Regions from separate parts of the Homo sapiens genome. Here regions 1, 2 and 4 are each linked to region 3. Evidence: fine-mapped expression QTL. A gene starts in region 3. Each other region holds a variant in brackets. All regions are shown on one strand. Distances are from middle to middle. Region 1 overlaps WHRN (whirlin). Region 2 has its middle 35 kb from the start of ATP6V1G1. Region 3 holds the start of WHRN (whirlin). Region 4 overlaps WHRN (whirlin).

The links. PIP is the estimated chance that this variant, and not a neighbour inherited with it, causes the effect. A credible set is the group of variants that fine-mapping cannot tell apart.
Region 1: its variant is the best candidate, but not a certain one, in a credible set for the expression of WHRN in stomach (GTEx, PIP 0.79).
Region 2: its variant is the best candidate, but not a certain one, in a credible set for the expression of WHRN in atrial appendage (GTEx, PIP 0.87).
Region 4: its variant is the best candidate, but not a certain one, in a credible set for the expression of WHRN in left ventricle (GTEx, PIP 0.87).

Annotation. Positions count from the first base shown.
Region 1 is chr9:114,425,709-114,429,708 of GRCh38, reverse strand. It overlaps WHRN (whirlin), which reads left to right. Exons shown (of 12, transcript NM_015404.4): 4 at 3,296-3,498. Among named protein-coding and RNA genes, the nearest start is that of AKNA, 40 kb to the right of the region's middle. The variant C/GTC (reference allele first, on the strand shown) is at 1,930.
Region 2 is chr9:114,550,170-114,554,501 of GRCh38, reverse strand. No RefSeq gene overlaps it. Among named protein-coding and RNA genes, the nearest start is that of ATP6V1G1, 35 kb to the left of the region's middle. The variant C/T (reference allele first, on the strand shown) is at 2,567.
Region 3 is chr9:114,503,219-114,507,492 of GRCh38, reverse strand. It overlaps WHRN (whirlin), which reads left to right and starts at 2,020. Exons shown (of 12, transcript NM_015404.4): 1 at 2,020-3,309. The coding sequence starts at 2,692. RefSeq lists a silencer at 1,926-2,225 and enhancers at 1,750-2,640, 2,641-3,531.
Region 4 is chr9:114,448,409-114,452,408 of GRCh38, reverse strand. The region is part of intron 3 of WHRN (whirlin); the gene reads left to right. Among named protein-coding and RNA genes, the nearest start is that of WHRN, 55 kb to the left of the region's middle. The variant T/G (reference allele first, on the strand shown) is at 1,723.

The sequences.
Region 1 (4,000 bases), 78 kb after region 3:
CATAAGCACTGATTGAGTGCTTGCTGAGTACCAAGCCCCGAGCCAGGTGTTGGGTCTTGTCTCACGCTCTTTACAGGGAGACCAGCCAGGGCTGCCGAAGTTCTCAGGGGCCCTGGCTTCTCAACCGGGGAGCTCAGAGACATAAAAAGGGAGAAAGAGAATTGCAGATATTGCTGGGGGCATGGTGAAAGCATGTGGCATTGAGATGCTGCTGACTTTAGGTATTTGGAGAAGGACAATCCTGGGCTAGGACTCCCTTTTTACTCCCAACGAAAGTGAGGCACAAAAGCTATTGTGGGTTTTGTGGGGCCATGTGGCACGGAAGTGATAGAGTTAGCATTTGAACCCAGATCTGATTGTCTTTGAAACCATTAGCCATAGTGCTTTGCTTCCTCCTAGATTATGAGGGGTCATGGGAGGTGTTTAAGCAGGGAGAGATGTCATCAAAGCAAAAAGTTGATGAAATTAATCTGACACTGGCGGGGCGCGGTGGCTCACGCCTGTAATCCCAGCACTTTGGGAGGCCAAGCCGCGTGGATCGCCTGAGCTCAGGAGTTTGAGACCAGTCTAGGCAACATGGCAAAACCCCACCTCTACTAAAATACAAAAAGTTAGCTGGGCGTGGTGGTGTGCACCTGTAGTCCCAGCTACTCAGGAAGCTGAGGCATGAGAATTGCTTGAACCCAGGAGGTGGAGGTTGCAGTGAGCCGAGATTGCGCCACTACACTCTAGCCTGGGCAACAGAGGGAGACTCAGTCTCCAAGAAAAAAAAAAAAAGAAATTAATCTGGTACTATGTCTGGCCAGTTTAGATGTAAATGCACAGTGATGAGGATGCTAGCTCGCTCACGTGGGAGGGAGCAGGTAGGAACCGAGGTCAGGGGGCTGATGGGGGTGGAGGACGGGATTTGCTGAAGGATCTGCTCAGGGGGGTAAAGGCAGAGTTGATGATGAGATGAAGTTTTCAGATCTGGCTGCTGCAGGCAGGGTCAGGGAAAGGATGGCAGCACAGTAGCTTTGGACACGCTGGATTTGAAGCGATATCACGTGGTCCCCAAACAGCGCTCCGGGCAGCAGCCCAGCAGTAGAAAGCAGAGGGGCCTTGGTGCTGGCCTGACCTGGATGTGCAAATCAGCACTCCTTTTCACTAGCACTGTGACCACAAACTATGTGCTTAACCTTTCTGAGCCTCAGTTTCCTCTCTAGTGAAATGGAGAGCTATGATACTTACTTTATAGGATGTTGGTGATATTAAGGAGAAAACATATAAAGGGACAAAGAAGGCTGGTGTAATGTGCATCTCTGAGCTGCAGCAGAGATGGTCCTGGAGTTGGAATAGATGGAAATGCGTGTCTTTTTATTAATCTGATTTTATTTTTTAATACAGAGTCTTGCTCTGTCACCCAGCCAGGCTGGAGTGCAGTGGCACGATGTCGGCTCACTGCAATCTCTGCCTCCAGGGTTCAAGCAATCCTCCTGCCTCAGCCTCCCGAGTAGCTGGGACTACAGGCGCACCACCTCGCCGGGCTAATTTTTGTACTTTTAGTAGAGACAGCATTTTGCCATGTTGGCCAGGCTGGTCTTGAACTCCTGACCCCAAGTGATCTGCCCACCTCAGCCTCCCAAAGTGCTGGGATTACAGGCATGAGCCACGATGCCTGGCCTCATCTGATGATTTTTTTAATTCCTACTGTGTGCTGGGCCCTGGGGATACAGTGTGGAGAGGCTGATGGGGAAACTCAGTCATCACGCAAAGCTGAGCTCACCCTTGATCGTGAGCTAAATGGAACAGGAGCAGATTATCCTGCTCAGCACAACATCCCAGCACACAGTAGGCATTGCAGTAAATGGTGGTGAATGCTTGAAATGCAGCACAGACCCCACTCTGTTAGAGTCATGGAGGCAGAGGCAGCAAGCCTCCCCTGAGTGT[C/GTC]AAAGCCGGTGCAGAGGAGAGAGGTAAAGTCTGTCTTTGTAACCACTTTCTATACTGGAAACTCCCAACTGGGGTGAGGCATTCAAGAAAAGCCGGGGAACTGGGGAGCAGGGTTTTGGTTCTCAGCCTGGTAATCCCATCTTCTTTTCTCCCAAGCTCCCATTTGTCTTACCTTTTCCAAATCTTTGAAAAATGCTGGATAAACCTACAGGAGTTGATCATGTGCTCTCAGCAGGCTGGGAAACTGGGGAAAAGGAAAAACAGCCAAGAATAACCAGCATTGTGAGGCTGCCCTTCAAGGCCTCAGTGGCACATGACCCTGGGCAGCCCTTTCCCGTCCTTGGACCTCAGTTGACCCATTTGTGAAAGGAACCCCGAGTTTAAAGGTGCGGTCCCATCATACCCTGCAGCATCTTCCCTTTCAACCCCTTCTATTTCTGTCACATATTTGTTTTTATTGGAAGGCTAGTTTTATTTTTTGCCTCTGTTTTTACATTCCTTCATTAAAAGTATTTTTGTAAAAAGAGAGGATCTTGCTCAGTTGTCCAGGCTGGAGTATGGTGGTGCAATCACAGTTCACAGCAGCCTCGAACTCTTGGGCTCAAGCAATCCTCCTGCCTCGGACTCCCAAGTAGCTAAGGACTATAGGCACACACGACTGTGCCCGGCTATTATTATTTTTAGAAATGGAATCTCACTATTGCCCAGGCTGGTCTGCAACTACTGGGCTTAAGTAGTCCTCCCACCTTATTCCTCCAAAGCTCTGGGATTACAGGCATGAGCCACTGTACCTGCCAGAAATATTTTTTTAATTACAAAATAAAGCTGCCTCCTTGTAAGAATCTAAGCCATATGTACTGCTTTAACGGAAAACTAATTTTCTCATTTATTGCTGTTTCTTTTAGTAGATTAAAGTTTTGTTTACATTTTAAGGTAATATAAGAATGCATGGTTGAGGTAAAAACCTCAACAAAGTACAAGTGTAGGAGGAAAATTACGGATGTCCACCTTCATGGCTTGCCTCATCCTACCCCAGCTTCACGCCCACCTTGGCCCTGAGATGACTGTTGTTTCTAGATAAGGGGACCCTTGGAATGTCATCGTAGACCCACCCCTCAAAGCCATTGCTGAGTCATGGGGACATGCCCCCTTTTGATGACAAGAGCATGGACTCTGGGTCAGGATCAGAAGGCCAGCACTGCTATTGACTTGCTGTGTGACCCTCAGGCATCCTCACATCCTCTCTGATCCTGGATGACCTCCTTGACAGGCTGGCCCAGAGGAGAATTGGGATCTGGGCTGTGAAGTCCCTAGTGTGAATCCTGCAAACAGCCCAGGTGACTGTATTGTGTGGTGATCTTGGCAGGTTGGGGACCAGATTCTAGAAGTGAATGGGCGGAGCTTTCTCAACATCCTACACGACGAGGCTGTCAGGCTGCTTAAGTCATCTCGGCACCTCATCCTGACAGTGAAGGACGTCGGGAGGCTGCCCCATGCCCGCACCACTGTGGACGAGACCAAGTGGATCGCCAGTTCCCGGATCAGGGAGACCATGGCGAACTCGGCAGGGTCTGGCCACTCTGCTCGCTCCAATCTCCAGACCCCAGGGCCATTTCTGAAAGCCAGTGATAGCTGCCTCCCATCCCTCCACCGCCCTGGCTCTCCTCTCAGCCTGCAGTCCCCACACCAGGGCCCTCCATTGGCAGGACATGACCTGGGCACATCCCTCTCCTCTCTTGGCCTCAGTTTCCCCATGGAAAGCTGAAATACACCATCCAACTGTCTCATTCTTTATTTGTCCCCAAATTACTTAACTCATTCTATAGACCTTAGTTGCTTCATCCAAAAAGTGGGGACCATAACCCTGCCCTCATCCCAGATCTGTGCAGATGAAAGAGAGGGAGGGAGAGGGAAAGAGAGAGATGCTTTGGGGTGTATTTGGCCAGAGGCCACCAGGCTGGATCCCATGAAGAAATCTGGGTGAGAGGGTCTTAAAGTCATAAACTGAGATCCAGTTGCCAGGTGGCTGCATAGTTGCCAACAGTGTAATGTGTCACCTTTTGATCTTCAT
Region 2 (4,332 bases), 47 kb before region 3:
TTCCTGAGTTCTGTGAGTCATTCTAGCAAATTATAGTACCTGAAGCAGGCATGGGCCATGGGGATTTCTGAATTTGTAGCCAAATTGGACAAAAGTGCAGGTAGCCCAGAAACCCAGGACTTATGGCTGGCGTCCCAAGTGAGGGCTGTCTTGTGGCACTGAGCCCTTAAACCTATGGAGTCTGACACTAATTCTGGTTAGTCGATGTCAGAATAGGATCGGATTGTTGTACACCTAGTTGGTGTCATGGGAATCAGAGACAGTCCATCAAGTTTTAATTGTAACCCCCTCTAGAAGACAAATGGTCTGGGGACAGATCTTAGTAACAGATGCCAGACTGAGTATTACCATCCCCTTCAACATTAGAGGTGGTGATACTCGGCCATGGACTTCCCAGCTCTTCCCTTGAAGTGCAACAGGACCACCATGTTTGCCCACCTCCTCAGGCACCATTCACAGTGTATTTTATGTGAAGGTGTGGAGTTCATCTTTTTTAATTCCTAGGGAGTAAGAATTCAAGGTGACCTTTCTGGCACCCTCTCTACCTGATCAGCCTCCGCCATGCCATTTCGTAAGTATTTTCCCCAGCTCAAGTAGTAGATGAGAAGTTTTGCAAATCAGCTGGCTAAACAGATGTCCAACGGTGGAACAGACTACCAGTGTCCTTTCTTGCAGACACCCCAGTTTGAGCCCTATGTCTGTCTTGGCCTTAGGGAAAAGACAAAGGGGTATCCCTGGATGAACACCGTACTACCCACTGGCCAATGACCTCTAATATTTTTTGGGAAAGGTGTGGACCAATTTCATTTTTTCTCAGTAAGCCTTGTGAGAATACGCATGCTCTGAGAAGGGAATACTATCAGGTGGGTGACTTGATTGACGTGTCACCACAATGGTCCTGTTGCTTAGAAATCCATCAGTCCTTTGTGCATACCCCGTACTTCTGGGACTGTTCACCTGAATCAGTGACCAATGGTTTTGGCTAAAAGTTACAAAACCCATCCAATAGTGGCTTAAATGAAATAGACCTTATTATGTCTCCTAGAAGACTAGGAGCCAGAGGATGCAGGGCCGCTCAGAGGTGATGAGCACTGGGATCAACAGCCCAGTTTCTTCCTATCTTTTGGCTCCGCCTAAGCTGTTAGTTTTTCATGTTCACACTTGTCATCTCAAAGTCACAAGATAGCAATTAGGCATAAACTCTGCTACCAACCTTCCAAAGCAGAAAGAACAGGCATGGTCCAAAAGTCTTTTCTTTCTTCTTTTTCTTCTTTCTTTTTTTTTTTTTTTTTTAATAGAGATGGGGTTTCACCACATTGGCCAGGCTAGCCTCGAACTCCTGACTTCAAGTGATCCACCTGCCTTGGCCTCCCAAAGTGCTGGGATTAAAGGTGTGAGCCACCTGTAATCCAGCCCAAAAGCCTTTTCTTTCTGAGGCTCTGTCTTTTTTCTAGGAATTGAGGGTCGCACACTGACTTCCCTTAGGTCTCTTTGTCCAAAACTGGGGTTGGAAACACTCAAAAAGGGGAATGGGATTGCCAGGGCTGGCATAGACACATGATGACTCATTTCTGGAGTTGAGGGAAGGATCTTGCCCTTACAACAAGCCGGGGAAAGGGGTGGAGGGGCGGGTAACGGTCACCCCTCTGAGTGCCAACCTTGACCATCTATCTTGCTTGCCCATCAGTTCTTCAGTGCATCTGCACCTCCAATGTCCGTGCCCTTCTTGCAGACACCCCAGGTGGAGGCCTTTCCTCTTTTCTCTCTCCCAGCAATACTGGACTTTTCCACAGGAGTGGGTAGCACTCAATAAATGTTTCTTAAATAAATGAAGACAAAAAAATGTTTTAAAAAATGATTTTATGGAGGGTGTGGGGAGTATAGAATTTGGAAGAAACATATTTCATAGAATTATTAGACAAATAGAGCCCAGAGATCAGGAATTCATTGCCAGGAGCCCATGACTGGGTGTCAGCGGGTTCCATGAAACCCTGAGATTGCATGACACATTTTGCATGAATGTGTATATAAATTTTGGGTAGGGTGTGTCCTTGGTTTATAGCACATGTAAGATTCTGCAACCTCTAAAAGACTCAGAAAGCCCACCCCAAATGGCCAAGGGCAACACCCTCAATTACCGGTGGGCAAAGTAGTAGCCAGCATCCTCCAAGGAATGACAAGCTAGCAGGACTGAGCTTCTGACTCCCAGGACCTCTCCTCCTAAAGCCACAGACTCCATTGTTTCTATTTTTAAAAGGCCAGTCCAAAAGGTGTTATTATTCTCTGTCTCCCAGCACAGCTTGGAGCAGAGTGGCCAGACTAGGGAAGGAGTCTCTCGTGATGACTCACCACCATCCTCCCCTGAGTAATGGCCTTCAGGCTCTATCACTCACTTGTGCTGACGCACTAGACTGGAAAAAGCTGACCCTGAGTCAGTGGTTATATGGACACATAAAACCCTGGGAGGCGGGACCAAAGAGAAGGAGCTGAGCTGGAGGTAAAGCCAGTGCCCACCACCCAGACCCACACCTCCCCAACCCCAAGGGAGAAAGGTAATTTACTTAGG[C/T]AAGAGCCAGGTGAGCTACTGGATCAGTGTTAAAACTCCAAGCAGCCCCTGCATAGTGGATAGCTTGTAGGTGAAGATGGAGAATGGGAAGAAGGCCCACCTCTCCCTCAATAGGCAGCTCCTTCCCACTTTTGGGATGGAGAATAGCTGCGGTTGAGTTTGGCTTGGGAGGCTCAGTGAGTTAGTTAGGACCCCACCCCACATAATTCAGAGTGTGTGAGGCTGGGTGCAGTGGCTTACGCCTGTAATCCCAGTACTTTGGGAGGCCAAGGTGGGAGGATCGCTTGAGGCCAGGAGTTTGAGACCAGCCTGGGAAACACAGGGAGACCCCCTCCTCTGCCCCATCTCTACAAAAAAAAATTTTTTTTTTTTAATTAGCCGGACTTGGTGGCCTGTGCCCATTATCCCAGCTACTTGGGAGGCTGAAGGGGGAGGGATTGCTTGAGCCTGGAAGGCTGAGGCTGCTGTGAGCTGTGTGGTTGGACCACTGCACTCTAGCCCAGGCAACAAAGCAAGACCCTGTCTCAAAAAAAAAAAATAATAATAATAATTAATGAAATTTAAAAAATACAAAAACAAACAAACAAACAAAAAACAACCCACACATTGTTGTGTGAGAGCAGGCCCGGGACAGTTTTCCAGCTCCCAAGGTGTGCACCCTGGTCGGTAAGCCCTGGATTTGTTATGTGATCTTGGGAAACTCATTTGGCCTCCCTGGTCCTCCGTTGGTTTCCTTAATAGAAAGTTAAGGGGTTGCACTAGGTCAGTGGTTCTACATATTCCTCCCTAACAACCTCTGACTCCACAAAGGTAACCCTAGGCAAGCCATGGAGGGGAAGGGTCCCAGTGAGGGGCCTTAGAGACTAGGAGGAGAGGTGCCTTGGGGGACAAACGAGAGGGCCCCTTGGAAAAGGAAGGACACTGGCCTCTGGACATTTCATGCTGATGGGATTCTGCAGCATGGCTGCCCTTTAGAAGTGAAGAGCTTTGGCCAGGCTCACACCTGTAGTCCCAGCACTTTGGGAGGCTGAGGCAGGAGGATTGCTTGAGCCTAGGAGTTTGAGACCAGCCTGGGCAACATAGTGAGACCCCATCGATATTTTTTTAAAAAGAAATGTGGAGCTTTGTAAAATCAGAATTGCTTTCCCCAGACCTACTGATTCAGAGTCTTGCAGGGATAGAGACTGGAACTTGGACTTTCAGAAAGCTCTCCAGGACATTCTAAAGCAGCAGAGATTGTGCCTGTGAATAGCCACTGCACTCTAGCCTGGACAACATAGTGAGACCCCATCTCTGTAGAAGAGGGAGAAGGAGAAATAAAGTAGCAGGGGCTGGAGATCTAAGATCTGGGCCCACTCAAGGTCAAGGTGCTGCTGACCACCTCTTTCCCAGTTGCCCCCTGGCCACAGTGGAGATGCCCATTCCAGGAGGCAGCCCCCACCTCAAAAGAAAGGAAAAGAACAGAAAAGAAAAGAAGAACAATGGGGTCCAGACTTCAGCAGGTCCTCCAAGAGCAGCCGACCTCCTGCTTCCAGGTGTTCCAAGTGCATCAGTTCACACACATCTGTTGCCAGAGCCACAAGTCTATCGAGATCCTGAGTGGAAATATCTCCATCATTTAGCTGGTGACAGAGGCAATACCAAGAACAGTGTACTTACAATCGCTAGAGAAAAACATTGAATGGATTTTGAATAGCTGCAGAACGGCTCACACAGTGCACACAAATTCATTATCAGACTTGGCTCCACTCCTTTCAGGCGTGCCT
Region 3 (4,274 bases):
ATCCTTTGCACAGAAATAAAATGTTGGGACTGGGGATCTTAGCTCCTGGGATGCATTTATCAAACCAATCACAGTAATTATAATTAAAACAAACTAAGTGAGAGCTGAGCATGAAACACATTAGCAGGAAACCTGAACTGCATACAATTAAGCCCTGCTTGGTGGCATTTTGAGGTATGTCATTAATACATTTTTGGGGTGGAGAAGATTGATTTTTTTTCCTTAAACATCTTGGTCTAGTTGCATGAAAGGCTTCAACAACAGTTACAAAGGAGGAATAAGGATAGACACCATTAACTGCTAAGATTAGAGCTTTAAGACAGATGGCCAAAGGTAGCCTAATTGGCTATTTTTTAAAAAATCTTCCTCAGACACACTGTTAAATATGTTTATTGGGCATTAATTTAACCTATGTCTGTTTTAGGGAAGTAAAGAATTGAAGATCTTTAGGGAAAACACAGCTTCCATTCCTAGCCTCAATGCATTAAGTCAGCAGTGTTGAAAACCTTTCCACTCTTCCCCATTGTCTAGAGGAGAAAGTCCGTTTTCCTTACAGGTTCTTCATTCAGGTGTCGCCTCTTCAGTAAAGTCCTTACCATATTCTCCTCTCCTAAACCTGGGCTCCCTCGCCATTACAACAGGTATCACACTGGTTTTTAACTCTATTTATTTGATCTTTCTCCCCTGGGTCTCCAGCACCCAGCACATGACCCAGCACAGAGCAGATGCTTCAAAAACGTTGAATGAAAAGCGACCAAATAAATAAATAAATAAATAAATAAATAAATAAATAAATAAATGAATGATCTATCCTTCTGGGTCCACCACAAACCAAATCCTCCAGGTAATCCTCCATCTTGCCCTACCCTGGATAGATGTCAGCTGGCTCTGCAATGGAAATTCTGGAAGACTTTTACGAAAAATACATAGAAGAGTAGCTTAGGAGAGGCAGCTCAGGTTGGAAGGGATGTGTGTGAGGTAGGGTGTGTGTGTGTATGTGTGTGTGTGTGTGTGTAGCACTATGAAGCTCCCCATTAGAATAAAAGCACAGGATTTTACTTAAATCTTATTTGGGGGATTGGGTGGGTGACGACCGACTCCAGGGCACACCTGGGTGTATCTTCCCATTTTGCCTAGGGATGGGAGAGCATAGAAGAGATTTTTCTCCAAGCCACTTCAAATATGTATATTTTTAATTTCTATTTTGAGATTGTAGATCCAAATGCAGTTCTAAGAAATAATACATAGACATGCCATGTACCCTTCACCCAGTTTCCCCCGATGTTGACACGATGGCAACCAGGACATTGACATTGATAAAATCCACCCACCTTACTCAGATTTCACCAGTTTTATATGCGCTCATTTGTACGTGTGTGCGCGAGCGTGGGGTGTACACTTTATATAATATTTCTGAAAGTGGCTTTTCCCTTGCAATGGAGACTGGGAAGGGGTCCAGCCTGATCCATCCCTGCCACGGAGTTGACTCCGGCAGACAGCAGTCTATGCTTGTATTCGTCTCTCGCACACAGTAGGTGGCCAACGACCGTCCACATAAACCCTGGAATTTGTCATGTCAGGGCGCGTGCAGGAGGGGAGCGCCACATTGTAAGGAAGAAAACCGAGACTGAAGTGCCCAGTATTTTGGAAGCAAAAATCAAACAAACAAAAAACTTGACGATTTCCCCCCGAATTGTGAATTAGCTAGCCGGCTAATTACTCCAAAGCGATCCTGGTGTCGGCACTCGCTGCGACCGCCGAAGAGCGCTGTTTCTGAGCCCCGCTCCCGGCTCTGCCGGCGGGGTAGGGGACGCGGGGGCTCCTCCCACCCCTACCGCCGCGTTCACCCCTTTCTTCCCTGGGGCTGGACTGTTTCACCCCGTCTCCAGGCAACGGCCAGGCGCACCGGGCGGGACGTCATTTCCTGAGGAGCCCGTGGGGAGGGGGCGGGCAGGAGGAGGGACGAGGGGGCGGGGCCCGGGCCGGGCTGGCAACGAGACGGCGTCGGAACTCGCTGGAAGACTCGGCCCGGGTGGCTCAACAGTTCGCAAAGTCCGGGCTTGCGGCCGGGCGGCGCAGAGGCGCGGAGGCTCCCCGGGCGGCTGCATCCCGGGGCTGCCCCGGACATGCCCCGCACCCCTTGTCGGACGCCCGCGCCGCTTCACCGGCTGCCACTCCCCGGAGTGCTCTGGGACTAGAGCGCCCTCCGCCCCAACTTCTGACTTTGGGGTCCCCCAGCCCTAGAGGAACGGGCGCCCGGCTGGGGGAGCCCCGGGCATGGTGTGACGGGGCAGTCAGGTCAGCTTTGCGGCGCCCCCAAACTCCAGCCACCCGTCGTCTCCGTGCCCTCCAGAATGTAGCTGCTGACCCCGCGCCCCCCGGACTCCAGCAGCAGTCTCCGCCACCTCCGGGCTCCAGCAGCCAACTCTTGTGTCTCTCAGGAACCCGCCGACGTCTCCGCGTCCCCCGGATTCCAGGTTCGCGACCCCCGCCGTCTTCGCGCCTCCGGGACTCTAGCAGCGGTCTCCGCGACCCCCTAGGATCCAGCCACTGTACCCGTGCTCCCCAAACCCAGGCTCCAGCCGTCGTCTCCGCGCTCCCGGGGATCCAGCTGTCGCGCCAGTACCCGCGAGGACAGCGGCACCGCCCACACCCCGCGCGCTCAGAGCCCGGCCGGGCCTCGGCGTGGAGATGAACGCGCCGCTGGACGGCCTGTCGGTGAGCTCGTCCTCCACCGGCTCGCTGGGCTCGGCGGCCGGGGCGGGCGGCGGCGGGGGCGCGGGGCTGCGGTTACTGTCTGCCAACGTGCGCCAGCTGCACCAAGCGCTGACCGCGCTGCTGAGCGAGGCGGAGCGGGAGCAGTTCACCCACTGCCTGAACGCTTACCACGCGCGCCGCAACGTCTTCGACCTGGTGCGCACCCTGCGCGTGCTGCTGGACAGTCCGGTCAAGCGGCGCCTGCTGCCCATGCTTCGTCTGGTCATCCCGCGCTCCGACCAGCTGCTCTTCGACCAATACACGGCCGAGGGCCTCTACCTGCCCGCCACCACCCCCTACAGGCAGCCCGCCTGGGGCGGCCCCGACAGCGCGGGGCCAGGGGAGGTGCGCCTGGTGAGTTTGCGGCGTGCCAAGGCCCACGAGGGCTTGGGCTTCAGCATCCGTGGGGGCTCGGAGCACGGCGTGGGCATCTACGTGTCTCTGGTGGAACCAGGCTCTCTAGCTGAGAAGGAAGGACTGCGGGTCGGGGACCAGATTCTGCGCGTCAACGACAAATCCCTGGCCCGGGTGACCCACGCGGAGGCCGTCAAGGTAAGGCTGTGGTTTGGAGAGAGTCTGGGGCAGAGTATGGACAGAGTGGCACAGCTTTTTCAGTAACTCCATGCTGTGTGTCCTTAGATGAATCACTTGGCCTTTCTGGGCTTTTTTTTTTTTTTTAATACTTTAAAACAGGAATGTATAGCTTACAGAGCAAATAGCTCTCAGGCACTGGGAACGTAGTTCTGCACAGACATGGCCCTTGCCTTTGTGAGGCTTAAAAGCTAGTGCAGGTGATAGTAACAAATACTTGAGCAAATGTGTGGTTACAATGTGTGAATAGGGCTGTGGATTCTTATGAGCATTAAAAGAGATAAAATCTCTGCTTGGCATAATTAGGTGGCCTTTGCTACTGCCATTCTGTGGTTTTTTGTTTTTTGTTTTTCCCTGAAACAGTTTTGTTAGCTCTTAAGTGGCCTGAGGAGGCCGTTTGTGTGATCCACAGTGCACTGGCTTGACGCTGCTGTTTTTGGACCAGGTTGTGTATCCTGAAGCAAGTCACTTGCCCTCTCAGGACCTCTTGTTCTCCACTTGGAAAATGGGGCCACTGGACCAAATAAGCGGTCCCTAACCTTTTTGGAAATGAGACTCCTGCCTGAATGTAAAAAATAAATTCCCTAGCCCCTGAGAGTGTTTGTCCTTTCTGCCATTTGTTAATTGAGAAATATAACCTCATGACAACAGGCTTCCAGGGATTTAATCATGCTTTTTAAAGGAGTGTGTGTGCTTACTGATCTACAGCCCAGGGCTACTGAAAACCAGTTGGAGTATGATGGATAGTGTTGGGTCCAGGGTGGATTCATGGATCCTTTGCAGGCATTTTTCCCCCTTCCCCCCTCCCCCGACCTCCTTTGCGTACAAGAAGTGAAGAGTTTGGGGGAAAAGGGACACATGCTCTGCTTCTGCAGAGAAATGCTTCTCAGGGGGTTGGACTGTTCTGTAAACCCCCACTCCCCGCC
Region 4 (4,000 bases), 55 kb after region 3:
ATAACCCTGAATTTGCGTGATGGAAACTCAGGCTGACGCCCCTTGGCAGCCGGCCAGCCAGCTCTCCCCACTTCTGCCCGGTTCTCTGCCGTCAGCATGTTGGTGACACCTGCCCGATGTTTCTGCACACTCTGCTTTTTAGATTTGGAACCCGGAGGATTCTTCTGGCCATTCAGGATGTGTTTAAGTAAAAGCATGGTGAAAATGGCAGAAGATACAGCAGCATGAGGGTAGTGGTGATAACAGGAAACAGTAATGATACATTTTTTAATTTTAATTTTTATTCTTTACCTTTCCTATGTTGCTGAGGAAATAGTAGTAACAGAAATAAGTCATTAGGGTGAGCAGTCTTCTAGTTATTTCTAACATGCAGGAATAACAACAGCAATTGCCAGCATTTTGGGAGTCCGCCCTCTGTCCCACCATGGTGCTTAGTGAGTACTGTGCCTACAGTGAATCATTTAATGCTCCCAGCATCCCTGCAAGGAGGCTCTGGTATTATCCCTATTTTACAGATGGGCAGCTGAAGCCCAGAGAGGTTAAGTAACTTGCCCAAGGTCACACAGTTAATAGGAAGAAGAGCTGGGATTCAAACCCAGGTGGGTCTAGCACTTAGTCACAGAAGTCCCATTCTCATCTCTTCCCTCTCCTCATACCTTCTCTGGTGAACCCCAGAGGTTCTTACAGAACTTAGATGGGTCCTCTCTTTGTGAAGTGGTTCTCAGGCAGACTGGGGGAGGGACACAGGGCAGGGCCTTCCCCTGTAGGCAGCTTGAATTTACTGCTTTGTGAAAATTAGGGAGGAGCGAATGGTCTTCACTTGGGGTTTTCCTGTGTGTGTGGTGTGTGCGTTCATGCGCACACACCCCCACAGTGATATTTCTGATGTCTCCATAATAACAATGCCATAAAAGCAACTATTTATTGATGATTTGCTGCAGGCCCAGCCCTGTCCAGGTGATTCCTTGAAATCATCTTGCTCCGTCCTCTTGGCAGCCCCAGGAGGATCTCCTGAGTTTCATCATGCCTATTTCACTGATAAAGAACCCGAGACTCAATGAGATTAAGCAGCTTGCCCCAAAACATATTTTTAGTTGGCAGAGAAGCTGTGATTCAAAGGCAGGCCTCCCTAAGGCCACATGCCTTACCTCTGTGCTGATGCCAACAGGGACAGCTGAGCACAAAGTCACAGTGCCTCAGACTGGCAAAGGACTTTCTATTTTACCTTGGATGGGCTTTGCCCACGTTTTTCTGACCCCAAATCCAGTGCTTTTTCCATTCCCAAGGGCAGCAAGTCACCGATCTCTTGCATGCCAATGCCATTTCATTAGTGCGCCTGTACACATGTTTGTACCTGTGTGGTTGCAGCCGGGCTCTGCAAGAAGGGATAGTTAGCTAATGCTAAGAGTCACTTAGCGCTGTGTCTGCCATGGGGCAGAAAAGGGGGACCCGTGGCCCAGATGATTCAATGTCTGTCATTCCCACATGAGAGCATGGGCCTAGCTCAACTTTTAAAATTATTTAATTGAGAATGTATGACTAAAGCTGTATCTCAGCAGAAAGTATTTTTTTGCGGGGGGGGAAACTAATAATAATAACAATAGCAGCTACTTCTGACACCTACTGTGTGCCGGGGCGGTGATGACATTCCCTGGTGGTGTTGCATGGTGTGTAAAACCTGTCTTGTCACTTTATCACCCTGAGACTCGGTTTCCTCATTTG[T/G]AAAGCTGGGGTAATAATACCTCTTGGGACATGGTGAAGATGTAGCCAGAGAATCTCTAGCAAGCACTTGATGCAGATAAAAGTATTTTTTTAATTAGCTTTAAAAATTATTCCTGATTTTCAGTATAACCTTGTAAGGTAACCGCATGAGTCTTGCTTGAGGCTCAGAAGGTGGAAGTGATTTGCCCATGGCCACTTACCAGGAAGGGGCTGGCCAAGGTTGCAGGCTTGGCTCTGTCCTCTAACACCCAGCCAGGGCAGTTTCACAGTGGGGCCTTCCTCCCAGGCTAGGGGACAGTCTTGTATTGTCCCTCTGGGATGGAATAAACTCGAGGCTAATCCTGCCTGTCCCTCTTTGGCACTCCAGCCCTGGCCCCACACTGCCCCTGCTTTCGAGGACTTGTGGCAGAGCAGCAACCTCTCCAGCACCTGGTTGCTTTGGGGCTTCAAAAATCCCCAGGCTTTTTCAGCAGAAGGTAGGATGACAATTTCCTTGTCCTTGCTGAGGTCCAGCTCAGATAACTGGGCTTTGCCTCCCCACCAGCCCCTTTTGCTGGAGTGGGTTTTTTCTAATGAGCCATGCCCTCGGGAGTGCCTATCCCTGAGGTGCAGTAGCCACCTCTCACTCCTGGGCGGGTCCACAAGTCCTAAGCCTCAGAGTTGGCTCTTGCTTCCTTCGTAGAGACTATAGAGGAGCAGTGCTTCCCAAGCTCCTGTAGATTCCAGTTTTTGATAATAATGATAATAATAGTACCACCTATATCCTAGGTACTATATTGTCAAGACAACATGAGCTAATGCATATAAAATCCCTAGCCCAGTGCCTGGCACATGATAAGCAACCAAAAAGAAATGGTAGCTGTAATTGTCTAAGCGATTGGCTTGTGGCAAGACTGATCTGCAGTTACATCTGCGATGCTCAGATAGCTGATGAATTGACATTGATGATGAACGTCTTTCCCAAGGAGCCGGAAGGTGATTTATTTCCCAAGAACCTGCCACAGGCTGAGTGATTGCTGTAGCCTCTGCTCCCCACCCGCCCCCAGCTGTGCCACCTTCTCAGTCCTTCCTTATGATACTCTCTTAGTTGGATTTTTGAAATGGCCTCTCTGAATGAGTGTTTAATCAATTGCAGAAATTCGAGATGCTTAGTCCTCTGGCCTGGTCTTTACAGCGGCCCTTGGTAGGGTGGTAATTGCGCCAAGGCAGGCTGCTGCCAAAAAGACTTAATTTCTCTGGGCACGCCCATTAGAGCAGAGCTCACTTGCAGCTTGGCCACAGGAAAAGGTGAGATCATTTGTTCGTGTGCTCAGGGTCCCTGTGAACCATTCTGTCCACCAGAGAGAGGCTACTAGCTGGGGATGTCTGTGGGCTTTCCTTCTCATCTCATTCCCAAGTGGCTGAACAAAGGTCCTGGAATAGGGTAGGGGCATGAAGAGCTGACTGGCCCCGGAAATGTCATTGGTTGCCCTTCTGGCTTTACATGTGGTCATGCCAAATTAAATGCCTGCTTGTGGGTACATATGGTTTACTGAATCTGAGGTCAGCACGGTCCCCTCTTTCATAAGGGAAATGATTACCAGTGAGCATTTCTTCAGCCTCTGCTGTGGGATAGAAACATGAAGGGCTTTGGGAGAGGTAGGTAACTATATGGGGCAGTGCTTTGGGCACTTGACCATGCATACAGATTCCCAAGGGACCTTTTCCAGTGCCAGTTATGATTCAGCAAATGTGGTTCTTGTGGCCGCATAACCACCACAGGACTTAGGGATGTATAGTAACCACAAGTTATGCTCCCAGGTACTGTGGGTGAGGAAGTGACAAGGCACAGCAGGGGTGATGTGTCTCTGCTCCATGATGTCTGCAGCCGCAGCTGGAACACTCAACATCTGGGTGCTGGAATCATCTGGAAGCCTGTTTCCTCCTGTGCCTGGAAGTTGATGTTGGCTATGGGCTGGAGGCCCTAGTGCTTCCTGCATGGACCTCTCCCTGTCATCTTTCCACAGTGCTAGTTTGGGCTGCCTCTAAGAATGGTGGCTTAGGGGGGCTTTCCAGGGGATAGGTGCTGGGAGAGAGGTGAGTGGAGGCTGTATTCTTTTGATGGCCCAGTTTCAGAAGGCACAGAGTATCCCTCAGCTGGGCTTTCTTGTTTAAAGCTGTCACAAGTCCAGGCAGTTTCAAGGGGGAGAGGGGACTAGGCCCTTCTTTCTATGTGAGTGTCCTAGGGCTGCTATACCAAATGACCACACACTGGGTGGCTTAAAACAACAGAAATGTA